Regions from separate parts of the Homo sapiens genome. Here region 2 is linked to region 1. A link means that fine-mapping ties the variant in region 1 to the expression of a gene that starts in the linked region. Tissue or cell type: pancreas. Region 1 holds a variant in brackets; the other region holds the start of a gene. All regions are shown on one strand. Distances are from middle to middle.

What was found. PIP is the estimated chance that this variant, and not a neighbour inherited with it, causes the effect.
Region 2: ALOX12B starts here. The variant in region 1 is fine-mapped to the expression of ALOX12B in pancreas (GTEx, PIP 0.94).

What each region holds. Positions count from the first base shown.
Region 1 is chr17:8,044,749-8,052,825 of GRCh38, reverse strand. It overlaps ALOX15B (arachidonate 15-lipoxygenase type B), which reads right to left. Exons shown (of 14, transcript NM_001141.3): 6 at 7,825-7,997; 7 at 7,442-7,588; 8 at 7,140-7,343; 9 at 6,072-6,158; 10 at 5,750-5,919; 11 at 5,447-5,568; 12 at 5,162-5,262; 13 at 4,911-5,081; 14 at 3,692-4,440. The coding sequence ends at 4,261. Among named protein-coding and RNA genes, the nearest start is that of ALOX15B, 9.7 kb to the right of the region's middle. The variant T/C (reference allele first, on the strand shown) is at 3,209.
Region 2 is chr17:8,084,006-8,092,091 of GRCh38, reverse strand. It overlaps ALOX12B (arachidonate 12-lipoxygenase, 12R type), which reads left to right and starts at 4,376. Exons shown (of 15, transcript NM_001139.3): 1 at 4,376-4,796; 2 at 5,872-6,076. The coding sequence starts at 4,650. It overlaps MIR4314 (microRNA 4314), which reads right to left and starts at 4,036; the gene lies at 3,945-4,036. RefSeq lists an enhancer at 4,600-5,348.

The DNA of each region.
Region 1 (8,077 bases):
TACTATCTGTCTACTATCTACTATCTATCATCTATCTATCTTCTATCTACTATCTACTATCTATCTTCTATCTATCTACTATCTATCTATCTATCTATCTATCTATCTATCTATCTATCTGTCATCATCTATCTATCTACTATCTATCTTCTATCTATTTACCATCCATCATAGCCCAAGGAGGCCACCATTCTGGAGCATTAACTGGATATCCCTAGAGGTGAATGTTCTCTGTAGAGAATGTTCTCTGTAGAGGTGAAGTTCTCTGTAGAAGAGAAGAACCTTCTCTTCTCAAGGCGGGGAGGCCAGCTGAGAGCTCTAGGGCTAGGGTTGTGTGGTGTGTGTGGCGGGGGGACCTCACAGGCTCACAAGCTCACAGGCCCTGGGCAGAGGAGGTGGTGGTGGCTTCTCCAAGAGTGGTTAGGGACTGACTGCTTGGATTTTCACGGCTATGCTGCCTTGGACGCTGCAGTTTCTCCTGGAAATGATAGTTGATCCCAAAAGATATATACTGAAACAAACACCAGTTTATTGACTGGGGTGCAACTGCCCTCCAACTCACCAGTACATCCACGCATGCAACCATCCAATCACTTTCCCTTCATCCAACATTAAACAAACATTTGTTGGGTATCACTCTGTGTCAATGCAGCGCTGGGCATGAGGCCTGGCAAGTTGAGTGAGACCCAGCTCCTGCATTCAAGAAGCTCACAGTCTGGTTGGGGAGACACAGGTAAGCGATGGGCACCACAGGGTTTTAGGAATTATTTGTGCAGGAATTAATTCCTTCATTCAGCACGTACTTACCAAGCACCTGCAGTGTGCCGGCGCTGTGATGGGCAGTTGTGAACCTTGTCCTCCTGAACTGGAAGTCCAGCAATAGAGGTCAGGATGGCTAGGTCAGCTGGAAATGCCTCCGAGGGATAGGCAATGGGGCAATAGAAGGATGAAGGAGGCACACCAGCTCGTAACTGTCCCATCTTGGAAAGGACACACATCACTCCTCTGCGAATTAGTGTTCTGGCCAGAATTAGTCACATGGCCTCAATCTAACTTTAAGGCAGGCTGGGAAATGTTGGGAAGTACATGAGGTATTGGGTGAACATAAACTCTCTCTGTTCCAGGAACCAGTGGTCTCTGCTGCTCCGTGTTACGTCAAACAGCCTCTCTCACGGAACTGAATATGGAGGCAAATAACTCAAGGATGAAAAATGGTAGGCGCTTCATTATTCCCATGGCAGTGCCTGAGGACAGCATCCATCAGTTCTTGTCCCTTGTCCCCCAGATGCCTGGAGCTTCCTGGGTTTCAGTTTCTTTCCTGAAACTGCATGATTAACTTTTTTTTTTTTTTTTTTTGAGATGGGGTCTCACTCTGTTGCCGAGGCTGGAGTGCAGTGGTGCAATCTCGGCTCACTGCAACCTCTGCCTCCCGGGTTCAAGTGATTCTCCTGCCTCGGCCTCCCAAGTAGCTGGGATTACAGGCGCCTGCCACCATGCCCAGCTAATTTTTGTAGTTTTAGTAGAGACGGGGTTTCACCATGTTGGTAAGGCTGGTCTTGAACTCCTGACTTCAGGTAATGCACCCGCCTCGGCCTCCCAAAGTGCTGGGATTATGGGTGTGGGCCACCGCGCCCGGCCTTTTTTTTTTTTGAGACAAGATCTCGCTCTGTTGCCCAGTCTGGATTACTAGAATGCAGTGGTGTGATCACTGCAACCTCTTCCTCCGTGGATCAAGCAGTCCTCCCTCCTCAGCCTCCCGAATAGCCAGGGCTATAGACGTGAGCGACCACGCTCTGCTACTTTTTAATTTTTTTTGAAGAGATGGGGTCTCACTATACTGCCCAAGCTGTCTTGAAGTCCTGGGCTCAAATAATCCTCCTGCCTTGGACTTCCAGTGCTGGGATCACAGGCTTGAGTCCCTGCGCCTGGCCTGCATAGTCAGCTCTTTAACTTCTCAAGGAACTCCATTTCTTTTCCATTAACTCCTTTATTGCTTAAGTTAGCAGGAATTGATGGAAAGAAGTTTGACAGATACATATATCTCTAAATCACTTTCGGTATACTCACTCTCAACGAGGAATGAGCATGTCAAATGCCACTTGCCAGTCAGCCCTACCCTTTCTGAGGCACTGTTCTGTTTTTTTCCAATGGTAATGTTTATGCAGTTATAGTATATAAATTGCATTTTTGTCCACATTGTTTTATAAAAATCAGTGAAACTGAAAAACAAAAGCACTCATGCCTGCAATGTGTAGTAGTGATGGAAATCATTAGATGAATTGTAAAGGATGCATTTTGTTTTTACACCAAAAAAGCAAAGGCAATTTTAAAATTTGGAAAGTGCTGGTCAAGTATTTTGCAGAATGTCCCTCAATCTGGGTTTGTCTGTATTTTTCTCATCACTAGACTGTAGTTATGAGTTTCTAGAAGAAACCACAGAGATGAGGTGCTCTTCTTACAACATTAGAGCAAAGCAACATGGTATCAGCAAGTTCACCTGGATTTTTTTTTTTTGTTTTGACACAGAGTCTCTCCCTGTCACTCAGGCTGGAATACAGCAGCATGATCTCGGCTCACTGCAACCTCTGCCTCCTGGGTTCAAGCGATTCTCCTGCCGCAGCCTCCTAAATAGCTGGGATTACAGGCGCCTGCTACCAAGCCCGGCTAGTTTTTGTACTTTTAGTAGAGATGGGGTTTTGCCATGTTGGCCAGGCTGGTCTTTAACACCTGGCCTCAAGTTATTCGCCCGCCTCGGCCTCCCAAAGTGCTGGGATTACAGGTGTGAGCCACCACGCCTGAACTCACCTGGATTATTTGATTAAGGTGATGTCTACCAGGTGTCGCCACGGGAGTTTTTTTTTTTTTTTTAAAGGACACTTTTTTACCTTAATGGATGCTCACCGACTATGAGCCAGAAAAAAAAGAAAAACAGAATGAAAGAATGTGTATGAAATGTAAATCCATCAGTGATGATGAAATCTAGCAGCAAAGTATGATTAGAGATATGACAATGTTTTCTGATTCTCTGGAAACGGAACCTGCCTTATAACGTACAAGTCTTTAACTTTAGGGGATGTTTTTAAGAAAGTATACATAGGCACTGCCTGTGCCGACTGGGTGTTCTCATTCTGCCTGGCTCCCAGTGACCCTTTTTCAGTGTTTTGTTCACTTTAAAGCTGAGACAGTAGGTCACAATCAACCTCTTGGG[T/C]ATTTTTTGTTTTCATTTTTGTTTTTCTGAGACGGAGTCTCACTCTGTCACCCAGGCTGGAGTGCGGTGGCATGATCTGGGCTCACTGCAACCTCTGCCTCCCAGGTTCAAGTGATTCTCCTATCTCAGCCTTCCAAGTTGCTGGGATTATAGATGTGTGCCACCACGCCTAGCTATTTTTTGTATTTTGGGTGGAGACCGGGTTTCACCACGTTGGCCAGGCTGGTCTTGAACTCCTGACCTCAGGTGATCCCTCTACCTTGACCTTCCAAGGTGCTGGGATTATAGGTGTGAGCCACCACGCCCGGCCTTGTTTTTTTTTTTTTTTTTTTTTAATAGAAACGGGGTCTTGCTCGGTTACCTGGGCTGGAGTGCCGTGGCACAATCATAGCTCACTGCAGCCTCAAACTCCTGGGCTCAAGCAGTCCTCCCACCTCAGCCTCTCGAGTAGTTAGGACCACAGCCACATACCACCAGGCCCAATTTGTTTTTTAATTTTTATTTTTTGGTAGAGGTGGAGTCTCGCTATGTCGTCCAGGCTGGCCTTGAACTTCTGACCTCAAATGATTTTCCCGCCTCCATCTCCCAAAGTGCTGGGATTATGGGCATGAGCCACTGCGCCCAGTCTCTTTGGCAGCCACTTCTTGGTGGCTGTCCTTGAGTTGGGTGACCATAAGGTCCAATCAGTGGATGCTAGTGGGCCCTGGGGCGGGATTATGTGCTTCCCCCCACGGCTGTAAAACGCAAAACAAAACCAACTAGCAAAACCCTCAAGGTGGGCTCTGCGGGCACTTTGAGGCTTGGAGCCTCCAAAAGACTCAGTGGTTCTGTCCTGAGACTCTGTTCTTGGTAGATTTTCTGCTTTCTCTGTTTTGATTTTGTTTCTGTTTTTGTGTGTGTGTATGGTGGTGGGGGTGAGTTACAGAGTCTGGTTGTCCCAGGAGAGGCACATGGGGGCCTGTTTTTTCTGAGGAGTCCTTTTCTCTGGGTGCCAGTTATCCTAGAGCGATGTGGTCAAAGGGATGTCATCTGGGCCTGTGTTCCCCTGGGATTTAGATGGAGACGCTGTTCTCGATGAGGGGAGGGTCTAGGTAGGTGTAGGGCAGCACCAGGCCCTGGTTCCGCTCCTGGATGCCCCTCGAGATCTGGGCCAGGCGGCTCTGGAAGGTGGCGATGCTCCGCCGAGGGGCCTCCTCTGTGAAGTGCTCATCCGGATAGGTGCCCAGGGGCCTCTGAGGATCCACCACAAGGTTGGGTGAGGCGGCTGCTGAGGTCCTGCATCCCAGACTCCTGGTCCCCACTATCTGAGCAGCTGCAACTTGCCTTAGCCAGCTCTGGCCCTAGCCCCCAAGTGTGGGACCTGAAGTAGCCCTCGATGGGGCCTGATCCATGTCCCTCCTCTTAAACAGATATCCATGTAAAGCTTATCTGCAGGAAGCTTTCGGGGAATGAAAGCTCAATTCGGAATTTCCAAGAAGCATAATTACACGTTCCCCTTGCTACTGAGAGTGGCTCCGCATCATCGCATTTGGCCATTTGACCTTCACTGTGAAATGTCCAAGGCTCATGTGTCCCACTGGAGGGTCAGTGGGGCAAAGGGACCCGCTACCTGATGGCAGGGTTGGGTCTGGGCCAGCAGGGTAAACATCACACCCTCTCTTACCCCAATTTGGCCCAGCCTGGCCCCCAGCCCCACACTCACTTGGTCTCCAGGCTCCTTGCTCAGCAACCAGAGAGCAAGGATGACATCACATGTGGCATTGACAGGTGGGAGGGTGGCTATGAAGCCCTCGCATGTTGCCAGGCCTTTGGAGGTGGGTGGTGGCAGCTGCATGCTGGGTGGCAGGTTGGGCATCCAAGCACAGGAGTCAAACTGAAGGCCGAGAGGGCAGAATGAGGCTGAGGAGCTGGGTCACCTCCAGCCTGCCACCTCGGGCGCTGGCCTTTCCTCACCTGCCCTGCACTGACAGCCGCATGCTTGGCGGAGCAGGTGAATATCACCATGGTGACATACTGCACCAGGGCTTCCCGGGTCTCCAGTGAGGAGGGTATACCTGCAAGGAGAGCTGGGCTGGGATGGGGCTTCCAGGGACCTGAGGACCCTGCTGCGGAGGCTTGAGGGTGAGCCTTGAGGGTGGGGGACACGGGGACGGGGCCACTCAAATGCGTGCTCTGCAGGGGGTGGGGGACACGGGGATGGGCTCACTCAAATGCGCCTGAGGGCTGAGGTCCCTGTACCTGAGCTCTCCTGGTTTAGGAAGCCCTTGGAGAAGATCTCTCTGACCCAGGCCTGGAGCTCTCTGTCATCTTGGACAGACTCATCACTTGGGTAGTAGATACCGATGATTTCAGAGACAAAGCTGCAATGCATCCAGGTTCAGGTCCAGCCTCCAACCCCGACCCGCTCTGAGGAATGCCTCTGCTTAGCATCATGAATGTCTGGCCCTCCTCCTCAACGTGAGCCTCCCTGGGGCCTCAGTCTCCTTTCCTGTCTTCCCACGTCCCCGACCAGCCCTCGGCTCTCCAGGGACGGCCCCTCACCGTTCCACTGCACCCCAGATCTGCATCCCATCATCACGGTAGTAGTAGCCTGGGATGTCTTCAACTCCTCGGGTCCGGATATCCTCAGGCAGACACAGGAGAGAATAGTTCAGCTGCTTCATGTTCCTCTGTATCAACTCAGAGAAGCCTTCAATGCCGATGCCTGTGGACTGAGAGACAGGACTCTTGGGTCCTACAGACCTTGCTCCAGAAGCAGGAGGTAGCACTGGTGTCGGGGAGATGGGCCACTCCTACCCCAGGACCTCAAATTCGTCACATTGAAGGAGTGGCCTGCCTACTCCCTCCCCAACACAGCTCTCACCCTGTCCACCACCTGCCCTGGCACGATAAGCAGCTCCCGGGCGAGTGTGTTGATGTGCAGGGTGTATCGGGTGTGCGGGATCAGCAGCTGCATGGCAGGAAAATGGCAGAGCTAGGGGAGGCCTGGGTTGTTCTGGCCCCAGACCTTCCCCCACACAGGCACCAGCCCTGCAAGTCACTTGGAAAGAGGCAACAAGAATGAGAGGAGGCAGCCTGGGACAGGGGTCTGAGCCCTGGAGTTCCTGCTGGGCTCCACCAGCAGCTTGTTCTGGGAGCTCAGGCGTGCTCCTTCCTCTCCCTGAGCCTCAGGTTGTTTTGTCAAATGTGGGTGCTGATGTGGCTGAGCCCTGTGTCTTCCGGCTCTGGCATCCTGTGATTTCCTAGCCCCTAGGCAGGGAAGGCACTAGGAAAACCAGGGCCTGTGGGCCTGGCAATGTGGAGCCGTCCACCAGAGCCCACCTCTGAGCGCCAGGCCTCAGAAGCTGCAGATAGTCAGAAAGAACCAGCTAGTACAGAAGAGCACAGAGTAGGGCCCGCATCTGGGACCCAGGAGAAGTCTAGAAGGATCAGAGAATCTGAGCAGCGACTGTGGGTGGACCCTGGGAGGGGGCCATCCTGCCCTTCACAGAGGAGATGCCTCGAATCCATGCCGTCTGAAAGCTAGCAGGGTCTAGGAAACCTACAGAACCCACCCTAGAGCACGGGGGCCTCCCACCCAGCCCTCCCCTACCCCAGAAGTATCTGCAGAGAACTTGTTGGTCTCTCAAAGCCATGTTCAAACTTTGGCACCTGCCAGCCCCAGGTCCTTCCCCTTCCTAAGATTTGGGCTTCTATGACGGCTGTTGATGCTGCCTGATCTCCCTTCGAGAGCCTTTCTGGGGTGCTGCATTTATGTTACTTAGGGCCTGCTGGATAGCAGGCTTCCAGGGGAGTTGTGCCAGGAGATGCTGCTGAAGCGGACGGGGGCTCTGCATCCCAGCTTGCATGGATAGGGCCATGTGAGGAAAGGCTGCTTAGAAGAGGCACAGAGGCATGGGCACAGGCTGGGCCACCTTGTCAAGCCACTGACCTTGAAGAGAGGGTGGCAGTGGGGCAGCTGACGCAGGGTAGCCAGGGTGAAGACCTCAGGCAGCAGATGTGAGTGCAGCAGGTGCGTGAGGGCCTCATGGAAGGAGAACTCGGCATTGCGCACCCAGGTCTTGGCCAGCAACCAGTCCCACTTGTCATCAGTGGGCAGGAAGATGGGGCTGTTTGGGCCGGGGGTCTGGCTGAGCTGGGGGGAGGCAGGTGGGGAGAGAGGCAGCCATGAGTGTCTTCCAACCATTCTCCTGACTCTTCTTCACGCTGCCCTGCCCCTGCCTGACTGCATACCTGGATGGCGAGAGGCAGCAGCGGCCCGCAGCCTGGGCTCTGGTATAGCAGGGTCATTGGGGCCGCAGAGAACTGAGGCTTCCCATTAATGACATTGGTCTGGATGCCAGAGAGGATGCCGTGATCCACCAAGAACAGGGAGCCCTTCTGCAGAAGAAAGGAGATCTGGGGCTGCCACCTGGTTTTCTAAATGAAGGGGGTGCAGTTGTAGAAGGGAGAGGATTCAGGGCTGGGAGAGGAGTGTGTTTCGGGAGAGTGTGCTTGGCACGCAGCACGCGGTAGGTCCCTAACAAATGTGAGTGTGCCCCTCTGTCTCCAGTAGGGGACGGGTGTGAAGGCACTGAGATGGGACTGTGCAGAGCCAAGATCCCTGCACCCCTCACCTCTAGCTCAGCCTGCAAGCTGGTCCCAGGACCCAACACTGAGGCCACCATGGCATCAGTGACGGGGAAGTTCTTTGGGAGGTAGTGACAGCGGCGGATCAGGACAGGGTTGAGACCATTCAGGAACTGGGAGGCGAAGAAGGCGTCCTCCTGCCAGTGCTCAAATGCGTGCTCTGCAGGGGGTGGGGGACAGGGGAACGGGGTCACTCAAATGCGTGCTTTGCAGGGGGTGGGGGACACGGGGACGGGGTTA
Region 2 (8,086 bases), 39 kb before region 1:
GACGGAGTCTCTCTCTATTGCCCAGGCTGGAGTGCAGTGGCGCTATCTTGGCTTACTGCAATCTCCACCTCCCCTGTTCAAGCGATTCTCCCGTCTCAGCCTCCTGAATAGCTGGGATTACAGGCGCGTGCCACAACGCCCGGCTAATTTTTGTATTTTTAGTAGAGACGGGGTTTTACCATGTTGGTCAGGCTGGTCTTGAACTCCCGACCTCATGATCCGCCTGTGTTGGCCTCCCAAAGTGCTGGGATTATGGGCATGAGCCACCGCGCCTGGCCCTTGGATTCATTTCTACGGACAACCCCATTTTAAGCTCTGGTGAACTTTAAGCAGGGGAGTGGCGTGATTTGATTTTTCTTTCTCTGTGTCTTAGGAGAGTGGGTCCCCAGGAGTTAGTTGCTCCTTGCCTTGCAGGGCTTGGGGTGGGGTCAGGCACGGGGGATACCCCAGCAGTGAGAACTCAGCTTCCTGTGTGGATGGCCCCTAGTTAGCAACCCCAGTGAGTGTGAATCCTTCCCAGAAACCTCTCCTCCTCACTGGCTCCCGCCCCTGGTCCAGGAGAACCAGTTCTTCAGCCCAATGAGCACCTATCAAGAGTCACGCGTCTACGTTTTGGTCATAGCTGGGGAGTGCCCCATCTACATCCTCATGCCTGATCCCGTCCCTGTCCCTGCCCCAGCCACATTGACATCCTCAGCATCCCTGCCTCCATCTCCGTCTCCCTCAGGAACCTAATTCCCACTCCACACTGGAGCCCTGAGCAAACCCAGGGCCACCCTGGGATTTGGGTTGGAGGAGACCTATTGGTAGCAGGATATGACTCAGTTTGCCCAGTCCACTGCCCTGCTTCTCACCAAGCCTCAGCAGCCCCCTGGGGACACAGGGCAAAGGGGAGAGATTAGAAAGAGGAAGCTGGGAGAATTTGCATGGAATTTGCATCTTAAGATTTGCATCTTCAGGCTCCCAGCATCCTCCAAGAGTCATCGAGGTGGTTGAGGAGGGAGATCCCAGGGGGGAGATCCAGCTGGACGGCTTCTGTCTGCAGCCCAGGACAGCCAGCCCTGCCACCCAGAGCTGGGCACAACCCTCATCCTCAGCCTTCTCCCCTCTCCTCCCTCCCTCCCCACCCAACCCCTTTCCCTCCCCTACACCACGCCTTGCCCCTTCTCTCACCCTGAGCCCAAGTCAGCTCTCTTCGGATCTTCACCATAACTCCAAAGCCATCATCGATTCAATCCCCAGCCCTGACCTTGTCCTTGTCATTAACCCATTCAACTATGTTTTCGGTGTCTCCCAGGTACCAAGTATGACACCAGGAGATGGGGACAAAACCAAAAAAAAGTATGGACTAATTTATTAGAGAAAACAGACATCAATCAAAGATGTTAGCTATAGTGCTGTGAGAGCCATGTATAGTGAAATTTGGCTTTCCTGGAAAAAGCAATTATTGAGCTAAGATCAGGAGGAAGAGGAAACGTGACCTCAGTTTGAGAGGTAGAGAGGGAACAGCATGTGCCAAGGCCCTGGGATGGTGACGAGCTGACTTCACTTCCTTCAGGTCTTTACTCAAAAGTCTTCTTCCCAAGGAGCCCTCCTTGGCCACTCTGTATCTAAAATATCCTCCTTTTCTTTTTTCTGAGATGGATTTTCGCTTTTGTTGCCCAGGCTTGATAGCAATGGCATGACCTTGGCTCACTGCAACCTCTGCTTCCTGGGTTCAAGCTATTCTCCTGCCTCAGCCCCCGAGTAGCTGGGATTACAGGCATGCGCCACCATGCCCGGCTAATTTTTATTTTTAGTAGAGACGGGGTTACTCCATGTTGGTCAGGCTGGTCCCGAACTCCTGACCTCAGGTGATCCGCCCACCTCAGCCTCCCAAAGTGCTGGGATTACAGGCATGAGCCACCATGCCCGGCACTCCTCTATTTTTTATATTATCCTTCCCTGTTCTCTCTTTTCTCTTCAGCACTTATCACTATTTAACATACTATTTAATGTATTTGGTTACTAGGTAATATTGTCTGCTTCCCTCACTTGAAGGCAAGCTCCATGGGTGCAGGGGTTTGCTTTGATCGCATTGTATTTTCAGGACCTGACACAGCGCTGAACACACAGTAGGGGTTCGGCCAGTGTCTGTTGATGAATGAATGAAAGGCACGTGGTCCCAGACAGAAGAGAGCAAAGGGGAATGTGAGGGGTGAAGCCAATCAGGCAGGCCGTGGGGGCCACGGGAGGGGATGGTGTCACTGTCCCAAAGGTAAAGAGGAGCCACTGCCAGGCTTGATCAGGGTTGGGAGGAGGGAACATAGAGAGTGATGTGAACAGATTTGGGTCTGGAAAAGATCATTTCAATCCCCAACTCCAGCCACATCTGTGTCTCTAACCTAAACCTGAATTGCAGTTTCGACCCCATTCCACATCCAGTCTGGAACCTACTGGAACCTTCTCTTCATCTCACAATCCCAGCCCCCTCTGACCCTAACTTGGCCTGGGCATTGAATGACCTTCCTTCGATGGTGATGGAAGCGTGCCATCAGGGAGGAAAGCAGGGCTATGCTTCCTGGTTGACAGAAGCTGCTCCTCGGAGGTGAAAGGAAAGAGGACAGGTCCAGAAAAAGGGAATAGGAACGTGCCTGCCTCCTCACTCTCCCTGGGTCCCAAATCCTATCTTTGGAGAGTCTATCTCTGACTCTCTCATAATGCTCTTCACCTTACTCCTAACACCTTCTCCCTATCCTGCGGCTCTGACTTCTGTGATTCTATCAGCAACTAGTTCCCAATCCCAACCTCCCACGCTTATTTTCTTCAGAGCACTTAGTATCCAAAATTATAGTGAACAAATTCTTGTTTACTGTTTCTTTCACTTCTTTCCCAGCTATTCCGTAAGCTCCATGTATGTTTCATTTCTTCTCTGCCTCTGCAGTGCCTAGAACGCCGTGCACCGTGCTCACTACATATCTGAGGGAGGAACGACCTGGTTCCCAACAAACACAGTTCCACTGGAGCTCAGCCCTGCCTCCAGCCCTCTTCCTAGCTTCATTCTTTTTTGGGAGGGAAGTGAGGGTATGTACTTTATGAAATTAAAGGATAACACATAATGAAATGAATGAAGTACCCTAGACGCCCCTCAGATCAAGATAAGAACACCTCCAGCAGCCTATATGGCCTCCCTCTGCCAGGGATACTCACCAGTAGAGGTTGTCTGAGAATTGCTCAGTTTTGCTGGTTCTGGAAGTTCCTATCAATGGATAACAGAACGTATCCCCTTTAATGTCTGGCTCTTTTTGCTCAGTATCATCTTTGTGAGACTCATCCGCATTGCAGTTCATTCTTTTTATTCCTGGGTAGAATTCTATTTTATGATTATACCACAAAATATTGATCATATTAATCCATTATTTAACTTAATTCTTTTGTCTTTTTTTTTTGGAGACGGAGTCTTGCTCTGTTGCCCAGGCTGGAGTGCGGTGGCACGATCTCAACTCACTGCAACTTCCGCCTCCTGAGTTCAAGCGATTCTCCTGCCTCAGCCTCCCAAGTAGCTGGGACTACAGGCGCATGCCACCACGCCTGGCTAATTTTTGTATTTTTAGTAGAGACAAGGTTTCACCATGTTGGCCAGGCTGGTCTCGAACTCTTGAGCTCAGGTGACCCACCTGCCTTGGCTTTCTAAAGTGCTGGGATTACAGGCGTGAGCCACCACGCCCAGCTATTTAACTTAATTCTTATGCCCCAGATTTCACTCTGTCTTCTAATTTAGTTTTTTTTTTTTTTTTTTTGGGCTTCTGATTTTATATCCAACTCCAATCCCTCACCAGTGGATCCTGGCCCCACAGGAAGCAACAGATCCCCTTCTCCTACCCTGATCGTTCCTCCCCGCAGCATCTTCAGGCCTTTGGGCACCCATGTGGTCCCCGAGCCCTAGCTTCAACACCTCCCACCCTTCCAGTCACAGACTCTGGGCCCTGGGGCAGAAGGACAGGCCAGCTTTCTCACTGTGGCCACTACCTGTCCCATTTCCCAGAGAGGAATGGCCTGGAGGCTGGCCAGCTGCGCTGCCACTTAGTGCCCCTCCCCCTCCCCTCCCCCGCCCACCAGTGGCCTCAGAACCAATGCAAGTCACTCACTGCCCATGGCCCTGCTTAGTAGGGGTGCCTGGCACTGTAGCCAATGGGGACTGGCAGGAGGAAGGAGCTTATTAGTCTGATAAAGATCTGGGGACCACACCCTGCCCCCTCCCGCAACTTCCCTAGGGCCCTGGCTCAGGCTGGACTGGCTCCCCCACCCTGAAGGCGCCTTCATCCACGGCATCTTCTATCCGCCCTTTCAGAGGCAGGCCCAGTGCCCTGCCTGCTCTTCCTCCCCACCAGCTCCCAGAAGGCTTGGAGCCCAGACACCTGCTCACTCACCACCAGCTGGGCTCCGCCTGGGCCTGCCCGGCACCCACCCCGGCCACCAAGGGCAGCAGCTTTTCCAGAATTTGGCTGGCAGGCCTAGTCACCCCACCTCGCCACCTCACCACTGCACCTCGGAGGCCAGCCCTGTCCACTCCACTCTGTGCCTGGCTTCTCTTGCCTGCCTTGGGCCTTCGTGTGGCCCCTCCACGGTGTCTGGGACTGAGTGCCCCTCTTGCCTCCTGAAGAGCAGCCATGGCCACCTACAAAGTCAGGGTGGCCACAGGCACCGACCTCTTGTCGGGAACACGGGACTCCATCTCACTGACCATTGTGGGGACACAAGGAGAGAGCCATAAGCAGCTGCTGAACCACTTTGGGAGAGACTTTGCAACTGGGGCGGTAAGAGTGTGTGTGTGTGTGTGTGTGTGTGTGTGTCTGTGTGTGTGTGTGTGTGTGTCTGTGTGTGTCTGTGTGTGTCTGTGTGTCTTTGTGGCCCCGGGAGGGGTGAAGGTGCGCAGGGGGAGCCAGGTGAGCTGAGCTTGGCGAGGAGAGGCTGGAGAGCTGAGGCACAGCTCCGAAGGCAGTGGGCTCCCCAGTGGCTCTACACGCCTTGTCCAGAGCTGGCTTCCAGCCCCTCGCCCATGTCCCAGATCTCTGGGCCATCCTTCTCCATCCTGCTCCTTCATCTCTAACCCTTTCAGGCATTCCTCATCTCCCTCCCCATCCTTTTCTTCTCTCTCCCTCTTCCTCAGCCCTCTCTCCCTGTCTCTGCCTATCCTGCATCTCTCTTTTCTCAATCCTTTCCACCTGCTTTCCTTCCCCTTTGCTCTCCTCCCCTTTCTGTCTTACCCCCTCTCCCGCATCCCTCTCTCTTCCATTCTCAGTCACTCTTCCTAATTCAGCTGCCTCCTAACTGTCTCACATTTGCACTGGATTCTCTGTGACTTAAAATGGCATCAGACCAGCCTGTCCAGTGGAAGGCACGCTTTGCGGGTCCTCAGACCTGATTTTCAGTCAGACCCAGCCACCTGCTGCTAGGCGACCTTAATAGGTCACTCTATCTATGTGGCCATTCTGAATATCTGCATCTTCATTGATGAATGGGAGAAGGGGCTGGCTGGGCCTCTCCCCACTCGAAAACTGTAGAGTGGTACCCAAGTCCCCAGGGGTCTGAAGGGTTCCTGCAACCTCAGGTGCCTGGAGAGGGGAGTGGGAGAAGACAGGAGCTGGGGATGGAGAGAAGGAGGGGCTGGAGTCCTACATAGCCCTGGGTAGAGGAATCCAGTAGGAGACCCCCAAGCTGGAGAAGTCAGAAGGAAGCTCAATGATCAGGTCAATATCCTGTCCCTCCGTCAGTCCAGGGAGGTGAGCATTGCGCAGCATGAGCAGGGCCTAGGTGAGGGGCCAGAGGGGTGGGCGGCCTGGGAGCCGGGGTGAAGTCCTGCCCACTCAGCCAGGCTTGCATCCTGCCTAGGTGGGCCAGTACACCGTGCAGTGCCCTCAGGACCTGGGTGAGCTCATCATCATCCGCCTGCACAAAGAGCGGTACGCCTTCTTCCCCAAGGACCCTTGGTACTGCAACTATGTGCAGATCTGTGCCCCCAACGGCCGTATCTACCACTTCCCCGCCTACCAGTGGATGGATGGCTACGAGACCCTGGCACTCCGGGAGGCCACAGGTAAGCCCTCATCACCCTGCTCCATCCTATGGCCGTGAGGCCTCTAGCTCCAGCCTGCTACCCTGGCATGGCACCCAGGCTCCCATCAAGCCAGAGGGGGGCCCAGCCCCACCAGGGACTCCTGGGCTCTCCTGCCACTGTCACACATTTCCCTCAGTCAGTGCTGCTGCCCTGAGCTCAGCTTGGGGCTGCACATTGGAGGAAGAGAGGTGCCTGAGGCCCAGCAGCTACCCTCAGCATCCCCATCTGGCAGCAGACAGCATTCCCAGAGTGCGCTCCCCGCTACCTCTCCAGTCCTCCCTGACTCCTATAAGATGCCCGGCCACGTTAAAAATACCCCTTGTGATGCTAAGTACAGGCTCAGGACTCTCACAGGAGGCCTATTTATGATGCCAATCATATGCGCTCCAGAAAGACGCCCTGTTACTCCAGCAGGATTCTGTTACTATAACAGGATGCCCCATTATTCCAACCAGCACCTTGCTATCCCATTTAGAAGCCCTTTGAGTTCAACAGGTCTCCGTGGTGCTGCGGTCTTATAATTATGACGCCCTGGCTTTCTTTTTTTGAGACGGAGTTTCACTCTTGTTGCCCAGGCTGGAGTGCAATGGCACGATCTCGGCTCACTGCAACCTCCACCTCCCAGGTTCAAGCGATTCTCCTGCCTCAGCCTCCTGATGCTAGTTTTTGCATTTTTAGTAGAGATGGGGTTTCACTTTGTTGGCCAGGCTGGTCTCAAACTCCTGAACTCAGGTGATCTGCCTGCCTCAGCCTCCCAAAGTGCTGGCATTACAGGCATGAGCCCCAGTTTTCTAATTGAGCATTTTTTAGACTGATGGGATGTTCTATTGCTCCAAAGGACTCCCTATTTTCCCAACAGGACACCATATTTCTCTAACAGGATGCACTGTTACTCCAAAAGGCCCCCCTTAATCCAGTAAGGATCTATCTAATAGGGGCCCTGTTATTCAGATAGACTGTCAGGGTTTCTCCAAGGTTAAGGCTGGCCAAGGCTGCCCAGTGGGTTTTCCACTTGCTTGGTTACTCCCATGGGAGAGACATAGGACCGGAGTGGCTGAGCTCCTTGCACCCACCCCTGCCAGAGCCCCTTGTGTGGTGGGCTGGGGTCAGCTTCCTAATTTGTGGTGCTGCATGAGGACTGGGGGCCTGTCCTCTCTTATCTCCCAGTTCCACCACCTGAGTGTCTGTTGGCTTCCCTTGAGGCGAATGGGAGGGAAAGGCTGAGCTGAGGACACCCAGGGCCCGAAGCCCCATCCTCCCTGCAGCTGACTACCTCTCTTCCGTTTCTCATTGCCCTGTGCTGGAATCTTCCCCCAGGATTGGGGAACAGGGCCTGAGCTGGGGAAAGGAGAGGCGAGGAAAGCCTGGGAGATGGTGAGCATGCCAAGGGGAGGGTCTCACTGGGGACACAGAGCATCTTCCTGCAGTGACAGGTCTGGGTGACATGGAAGCAGGGGACAGGCAGGGTGATGCTGGTGGCCAGGCAGGAATGGGGTTGGGTGGGGCCGCTGCCACGCAACAGGACAGGGAGACTTGAGTCACCCATAGGGCCCTCAAAGGAGTGAGTCTTCCGCCCTGGGGATGAAAACGAGCTAGGTCTCTGGGTTGCACAACTCCAGGGAGCACTGTTCATCCAGAATACAACATGAGCTGAGGCAGGTGGAGGAGGGAGAGGGTGGTGAGGTAAGGGACTTGAGGGGAAATGATGGGCTGCAGCGGTAGGCACAGGCCAGCCTGGGGACCACCAGCCAGGGTGCTGGAGAAAGACGGACCTGGACTTAGGTCTCAGTTCTTCCACTGACTAGCTGGACATTTGGGCATATTTTCAAATTTTTTTTTTTGAGATGGAGTCTCGCTCTGTCGCCCTGGAGTGCAGTGGCGCAATCTCGGCTCACTGCAACCTCCACCTTCCAGGTTCAAGTGATTCTCCTGCCTCAGCCTCCTGAGTAGCTGGGACTACAGGCGAGTGCCACCACGCCCGGCTAATTT